Linked DNA regions of Homo sapiens. The protein of the gene in region 1 interacts with the protein of each later gene in a biochemical or structural test. Each region holds a gene or a part of one and is shown on either strand. Other genes may lie near its edges.

Region 1 (4,324 bases):
CCATCACGTTAGGATGGCTGAATGATTAGACAAAATCCTCTATTTGGTTATGCTTTCTAGAAATAGTGTCCCAAACCGTATAACCCCAGGACATATTCTAAGTACAACTAAGCACAGAAAAATGAGGGGAAAGAAGAAAACTAAAACTCATTACAACATTGGACATCAAACTAGGAAGCATACATTTATTTCCTTTTATCTTCATTTTGCAGCTAAGAAAACTTAAAGTCATATAGAGAAAAAGGGGAAATGTATTCATACTTAGATATCTCTGACTTCACAACCTATACCTTCTTTCCACTATGCTACACTGTATTGTCTTATCTGGCTTAGACAACCTTATCTGTTTCCAAAAATACCTGACTTGCATATTAGCATTCTGCCTTCTTCTGTTGATTATGGCAGAATTTGGCTGTGAATCTGGTTGGGTGGCATAGGTGTAACTTTCCTACAGTGGATAGTTCCAGATGGACACAGGGCCAGGAAGCAGCATTCTTTTTTGGGTTATTTGCCTCTGCGTTGTTTTGCTCATAGCTCTATCTCCAGTTCCTAGAGGAGCATCTGCTAGAATGCTCAATCTGTTCCTTGAAAGGATAGATTAATCTTTTTCTCCAATTCCTTTACAGGTCTCACAGGTGCCAAGTTTATCTGCTTTCAAGACAGCCAGTGGCATAGCGAATGCTTTAACTGCGGGAAATGCTCTGTCTCCTTGGTGGGTAAAGGCTTCCTGACCCAGAACAAGGAAATCTTCTGCCAAAAATGTGGCTCCGGAATGGACACTGACATCTAGGAGACAGTCCTTGCCCACCTAAAATCCATTTTGCCTTCGTTGTCACTAAAGCCAGAACTCAGTTGCGGTCTTATTTTTGACTTAAGTTTTAGAAAATATTCATGTAGTTTAGAGTGGAAAAGTTTTTGCACACATTTTGATCGAACTATATTCTAAGCACACAAAAAGCACAGTAGAACAGAAATGAATATATGCTAAATCACAAAGACAACTCTCCTTGCAAAATACTGCACTCTGCTGTTAGAAGCAGAGGAAAATATCTCTTCATAATCAAATATATGACATATACCTAGGAGCTGTGGATGTAATTACTGAAGAATGAGGTTTTTCATACCTGAAGAGTAAAAGAAAAACTAAGAGATCAAACTGAGAGGTATACATGAGGCTAGTGTTTGCATTCCTGGTTATATGTAATGTGATAAATTAGCTATGAATGGTAAAAGAACAAAACTGATCAGAGTAAATTCATTAGCAATTATCACATTTAAGAATTGTTATCATTTAAAAATCATCCTTTTTTTCACACATACTGACTGTAGAATTAAAAAACAAAGCTACAATTTGCCCTCATACACACTGCTTCCACAGCTTGCTAGTTCTGTGTTTACTCAATGGAATATGAGAACTGAGGACATTATGGCTCTCATAATCTGCATAGGTATAAAGAGGATCATTTCTACCTAGGGATAGCCAAAGCATGGGTTTCAACACGTTTTGTATTAAATATATTTTCAAAGTCCACAGTGATTTTTCTAAACGCTTACAGATTCCATGAAATAAAAGTCTATTCTTTCAAGTGGAGCTAACCAGGATAATCTTTGTCCCCAAAGGCAAACCTTTAAAATAAATAGATCATTAAATCTTCACTTGTGGAAATGAGTTTTAGGGAAGGGATTGAGTCTTGGAACATGACTTTCATCCAGATATCTAACGACATAATAGAATGCATAATTAGCTCTGTGCCTCATGCATTATTGCCTTCTAAAATTACATAAATGATTAATGGGCAGACATAAAAGTGGGCTTTAAAGAAATCTAGTAATAATAAAAGCTGAAAAAGAATAATTCACTGCTGATAATTCAGAACCTGCAAAGCAGCACAATAGAGTAATGTGGGCTGTAGGCGAGCCCTCCCCACTCTTCCCCCACACCTGTGCCACACCCCCCTTACCCCAAGCCAGTTGTGCCCCCAGTTTCAATCTCCTGCATAACCAGGAGGTGCACTCCTAACCCTAAGCAACTGTCCTATAAGTCAGTCAGTGTTTATTGATCACACAGGAAGTAAAGAGCCTTAGTGAGAAGTCCATCACCAGGTTTATCTTTATACCAGACTTTAACTGATCATGACCCTATCTTGCTACCCCTGGATATTTTCCACATTACTTGGGACAAATGGAAAGCAACCTCTGCTCTCCATGATCTGTTTTCACATTGGTTATAGCATCTCTTGGATGGAGTAGAGGGAGGTCAGGAGAAGAAGCCCACATAGATATATAACTGTCTTCTCTCAGATTACACATTATAGCATTAAAGGTTTTGATTAAAATCTAATTGTAAGATACTGCTGATTACAATTACCAAAATAGCATCACAGGAGATTCAATTAAAATTGTTATGGAAATAATTTTTGAAATAGTTTAAAATGCAAGAATATTCAGCGATGTTAATAATTTAGAGATACTAATAAGTGTTCTGCTAGATAGACTATTTGAAAACTATAAATGTATTTTTGGATTAACAATGCCAAGGTATTTTTTCATATTCACATTGAAAAATACAGGCAAAACTATCAATATTTTTTCTGCATTATATGAAATTTCACAGGTAGAACTAAATCTATGATATAGAAAATAATAGCACATTACACATAGAGAAAACCAAGCCACTTAGGTTTAGATAGATATATAACATGTAACATCTTCTCTGTTAACCAATTATAGATACATATACAACATGTAATGTTTTCTTAGTTAAACAATTGGAAATGTTTAGGCATTTTACTGTGTGGGGGCAGTGAGTATGCACATGATCAGACTTGTATTCTAGCTTTACAATTAAAATTCACAGAATCATTTCCTAAAGATTTTATTATCCTTTCATAAGTATAAATATATATACTTTTACATATAAATAGTTCTGCATTTAGAAGGTATCCTACACATCAAACATCCATTAAACATGTACTATGCCAAAAGTTAGAGCTTATACTGTTGTGGGTCTGGAGTTGTAGGAGGATGGATCATGGTATGGAAATGCAGAAGTGCCTGATGCAAAGATCCTTGCCTGCAGGTTAAACAAAGCACCACATATGTAGACATAGCACACATATGCAAAACAACTAAGAAAAAGACCTCCTTAGGTCTTTGCGTAACACACACAAAGATAAATGTAAAAATTATATAGTTGATTTATATGGTTTATGTAACAAAGAGAAAAACTCCTTAATGGACTTATCCAAAGATGAAATGGACTGACTCAGGAAACAGTGGGCTCCCAGTAATTCAAAGGTGACATCTGCATGGGCAGGAAAGAAGTTAAAAGCAAATCCCATGTGCCAATAACAACCAGATGGCTTGGAAGTAGCAGAGACTGCCGAAGAGCAGGAGAAAATAAGATTGCTAAAAGAGAAAGAGTCAGAGGAAGGGAGAATATTAACTCTTAGGATAAAAAGTGACATAACCGGCCATAGAAAGTTACCAACTGTTCATAAGTAAAGGAAGAAAATAATTATTGTAGTGTTTGAGGAAAATTATGCTTTTGATCCTTTGTGGAATAGAACCAAAGAAAGCAAGGTTCCAAGGATTAAGTTTCTTACTGAAGGAATAAGTTTGGTTAATGGCTACAAAAGTGAAAAGAAAGAGGAAGAAGGCATTGAAGGCCACGAGTTACATTTGTTGGCAAAGATGAGTATGCAAGTCAACAAGTCAAAATATTTTATTTTGTCATGTTGGGGATTAAAGATGACAAAAGAAGCAAAAATGTATTTCTGCTTCAATAATAATGACTAGGAAGCCCAAGGGTTCAATTTTAACTTGGCATTATAAAAGTGTTAAATTGGGACAAACTAGCTCCACTGGTTAAGTAAAATGTGGTTATGTTACAATCCAGGCTTCAAAGCTTACATCGTTGCTATAACTTAAAAAAAAGAAACACTAGATTGTTCATTAGAGTAAAATATTGGCCTACCATTATGAAAAATGCATAACACTAATCACAAATGGTTAAAAAAAACTGCCAAATTTAATATCACAAATGAAAAGTCAATCCAAAAACACATTTCATGTTAGCAATACCATTTTTGAATTTAAGAAAAAAATAACTTTTAATCTACTTGGCATATTGTTAATTGTCTGTGTTTTAAATAAGAAAATGGTTGTTTAGCCGGGCACGGTGGCTCACGCCTGTAATCCCAGCACTTTGGGAGGCCAAGGCGGGCGGATCACGAGGTCAGGAGATCTAGACCAGCCTGGCTAACACGGTGAAACCCCGTCTCTACTAAAAATACAAAAAATTAGCCGGGCACGGTGGCGGGCG
Region 2 (3,825 bases), on another chromosome or scaffold:
AATAAAAGTTGAGATGTAGCCCTAAGCTTTTAGGGTTACCTGAGATTTCAACTGGATTTGCGTTATACATTATTTTAATTCAGTTGTGCCTATGATAACTGTAATAGATGTATTTAATACAGCTTTCAAAACTCCTGTGTTTTAATTGAATTCTATTCCTCTTGGTCCATTCGCTTAGGATTTAGGATATAGCACTATTTTTTAAAAATTTGCTTGCTTGTTTGTTTGTTTGTTTATTTATTTATTTATTTATTTATTTTTGAGACAGAGTCTCGCTCTGTTGCCCAGGCTGGAGTGCAGTGGCGCGATCTCGGCTCACTGCGACCTCCGCCTCCCAGGTTCAAGCAATTCTTCTGCCTCAGCCTCCCGAGTAGCTGGGACTACAGGTGCATAACGCCATGCCCGGCTAATTTATTGTATTTTAGTAGAGACGGGGTTTCACCGTATTGCCCAGGCTGGTCGTGAACTCCTGAGCTCAGGCAGTCCACCCACCTTGGCCTCCCAAAGTGCTGGGATTACAGGCAGCACTAACGTTAAGGAAAGTAAAATCAGTTATTTTAGTTCGAATGTCTTGCAGGTATGATAAGCATATTATAATTGATGAGTCTCTTGATAATTATACTCAGGTATTTTGGGGGTTAATGTGGACTATGGTAAAAGTGTGTGAAGAACTGAGGTGGTGGCATTTATGGAGTAAAAAATGCATAGTACAAACCCAGTACTTTAATGTTTTCTTGAAATGTAAAATGAAAGCCACCTGTTCTATTCCCCCCATACTCATGGACCATATTTATGTCTAGGTGAATAATCTTAAAGAATAATTATTTCTTCTCATTTTATCTTTGTTACATGGAAGAATCTACTGCAAACAACAGAGTTTTGAGAATTTTTAATGTTTTACACAATATGCACGTAAGTTTGTGCCTTGGGGTTTTTAAGAATTTTCTTCCACAAGTCACAAAGATTTTTTTCCACATTTTCTTCTATTTGCTTTATGGTTTTACCTTTCACATTTATGTCTTTAATGTATCTGGGCTTCACTTCTGTATATAGTATTTGGTGGGAATTCATTTTTAACTTTTTTCTCCGTATATGGAGCCACTCCCAAGGGTTTGTTGTTTCCTCACTGGTGTATGGGGCAGCCTTAATTAGACAGTGGGTTTGCTTTTGCACCTGGATCTGGCCAGTCTTCTGTCTGATTCATCTTTTTCTGAATCCCAGCGCCATACATGTTTGTTATCTCATAAAACAAGTTCCCCTTGTCTTTTTTCTCAGTTTGATACAGAGTTAGTTTTTTGTGCACGATTATTCTTTCATATGCATTTGGAATAAGTTTGAGTTTCTAAATAGTAGTAGTAATAATAATAATAATAAAACCAATGATGAGACTGCATTAATTTTTTTTTTCTTGAGATGGAGTCTCGCTCTGTTGCCCTGCCTGGAGTGCAGTGGCACGATGGCTCACTGCAAGCTCCACCTCCCGGGTTCACGCCATTCTTCTGCCTCAGCCTCCCAAGTAGCTGGGACTACAGGCGCCTGCCACCATGTCCGACTAATTTTTTTGTATTTTTAGTAGATACAGGGTTTCACCATGTTCGCCAGGATGGTCTCGATCTCCTGACCTCATGATCCGCCCACCTCAGCCTCCCGAAGTGCTGGGATTACAGGCATGAGCCACCATGCCCAGCCAAGACTGCATTTAATTTAGGGAGAGCTGAAGTCTTCATAATGTTAAGTTGACCTATCCCAAACCATAGAAAGTCTTGTTTATTCAGATCTCATTTTACTTCTTTTAACAGTTGAACATTTTTCTTTTTATTTATTTATTTATTTATTATACTTTAAGTTTTAGGGAACAGTTGAACATTTTTCTTCACGGAGATCTTGCATATTCTTTCTTTAGTTGGTTCCTAAGTACTTTATGGGTTTTGTTGCCATTACAATGGTACCTTATTTTGTATTGTATTTTCTAATTGTTGCTGGTGTAGAGAAATACGGATTATTTTAAGTCGATCTTTTATCTATTAACTTTGCTGAACTCTAATTACTTCTAATAATTTACTGATTCTTTGTGATTCGGTCTGTGATCCTATGTGAATGTTTATACAAATAGTGATGTTTTGTTTCCTCCCTTCCAATCTTTATTCCTGTTTTCTTTTTCTCTTTTTTTCTTTTCCTTAAATAATCATGGCCAGGAGCTCCAGTTTAAACACAGCAAGGCCAGTGGGCATTCTTGTCTTCCTGAACTTAGTGGCAGTGTTCCCTGCCCTCCTTCTCCCTTCATCTCACTGAAGGGCCCTGTCAGCTTCTTTGTGGATTCTCAGTGCCTGTCTTGGCTGATGCCTCAGCAGTATTTAACACTGTCGACTTCTGCTTCCTCCACTTCCTGAGACTGTGTCCTCCTTGCTCTTCTCTCTCTGCTGCTTCTCTGTCAGTCCTGTTGCTGGGCTAAGCTTCCCCTGCCCCTGTCCTGAGTGTTTCAGTGATCCTCAGGCTCACTCCCCCACCCTCTTCCTGCTGAGCTCCCTCCCTGAAGGACTCCCTCCCACGCTGGCTTCAGTTCACTGTGACTATGTCCTGACTCCAGCTGGTTCCTTAGATGGCCACACATACCTCTGACTCCTAAAATCCACTCTTCCTATCTTCAGTGATTGACCACTACTATCCTTGATGCCAGAAACCTAGGTGTTGTCCAGTATTCTTCCCAGTCTCCATTCAAAGTCACTGTGTAGATTCTTCTGCCTGGCTGAGCCATGAATGCTTCTGCCACTCCACAGCCCTCTGTCCTGGCCCTGGCCCTGGCCTGGGTGCTATCCCTCTGACCCAGGCTACCCCTGTGGGCTACAGTCTCCGGCAGCCACCGGAAGCTGGCTATTGTGGAACAGCTTTCTGATCCTCCTAATCATGCCAGAGGCAGCAGCTCCCTTCTTGGCTCAGTTTTTTGGGAATTGTTCCTGAAAGTTCAGCTAAACTCTTCATTCCTCACAGTGATTCTGGGAGCCACTGATAGTTCTTAAAAACAGCAGTTTCTTGCCCCCAACATCTCCATTACTGCATTGCACTTGTTTTGTTTTGTTTCGTTTTGTTTTGTTTTGAGACAGAGTCTCACTCTCTTGGCCAGGCTGGAACACAGTGATGTGATCTTAGCTCACTGCAACCTCTGTCTCCTGGGCTCAAGCATTTCTCCTGCCTCAGCTTCCCGAGTAGCTGGGATTACAGGCATGTACCACCATGCCCAGCTAATTTTTGTATTTTTAGTAGAGACGGGGTTACACCATGTTGGCCAGGCTGGTCTTGAACTCCTGAGTTTAGGTAATCCGTCCATCTCGGCATCCTAAAGTGCTACGATTATAGGCATGAGCCACCACACCTGGTGTCTGGGGTCTTTTTAATAAGGGCACTAATCCTGTTCACAAGGGTGTCACCCTCATGACCTCATCACCTCTCAGAGGTTCCACCTCCAAATACTATTGCATTGGAGGTGAGGATTTCAACAGAGGAAATTGGGTGGGGATACAAACATTCAGTCTATAGCATCCACTCAAAAGCATCCATCAATGTCTGTGACCTGTTAGACAAAGCTCCAAATCTTTCATGTGGCCCAAATCTTTGCTTGATCCAAGCCTTGCATTCTTTAATAGCTGCCTACCTCTCCACTTCTCCCTCTTTTGTAATACAGCTCTTTCTTTCATTTCCTGGGATAGGCCATGCCCTCTCTCCCTCCAGGGCCTTCTTCACACATACCGATTGCCTGATAAGAATACGTTCCCCGAGGAAGCCTTGCCCATCCTCCACATCTGGCTTAGGCAACCTTCTGTGAGTTCC

Evidence for each region.
Region 2: the proteins of FHL5 (region 1) and CREM form a complex in vitro, tested with the Homo sapiens proteins (one study listed by BioGRID).

Annotation. Positions count from the first base shown.
Region 1 is NC_000006.12:96,614,983-96,619,306, forward strand, and holds the end of FHL5 (four and a half LIM domains protein 5), read left to right. Parts: intron 1-626; coding exon 627-790; 3' UTR 791-3,644; downstream 3,645-4,324. UniProt on the Homo sapiens protein: May be involved in the regulation of spermatogenesis. Stimulates CREM transcriptional activity in a phosphorylation-independent manner.
Region 2 is NC_000010.11:35,189,273-35,193,097, forward strand, and holds part of CREM (cAMP-responsive element modulator), read left to right. Parts: intron 1-3,825.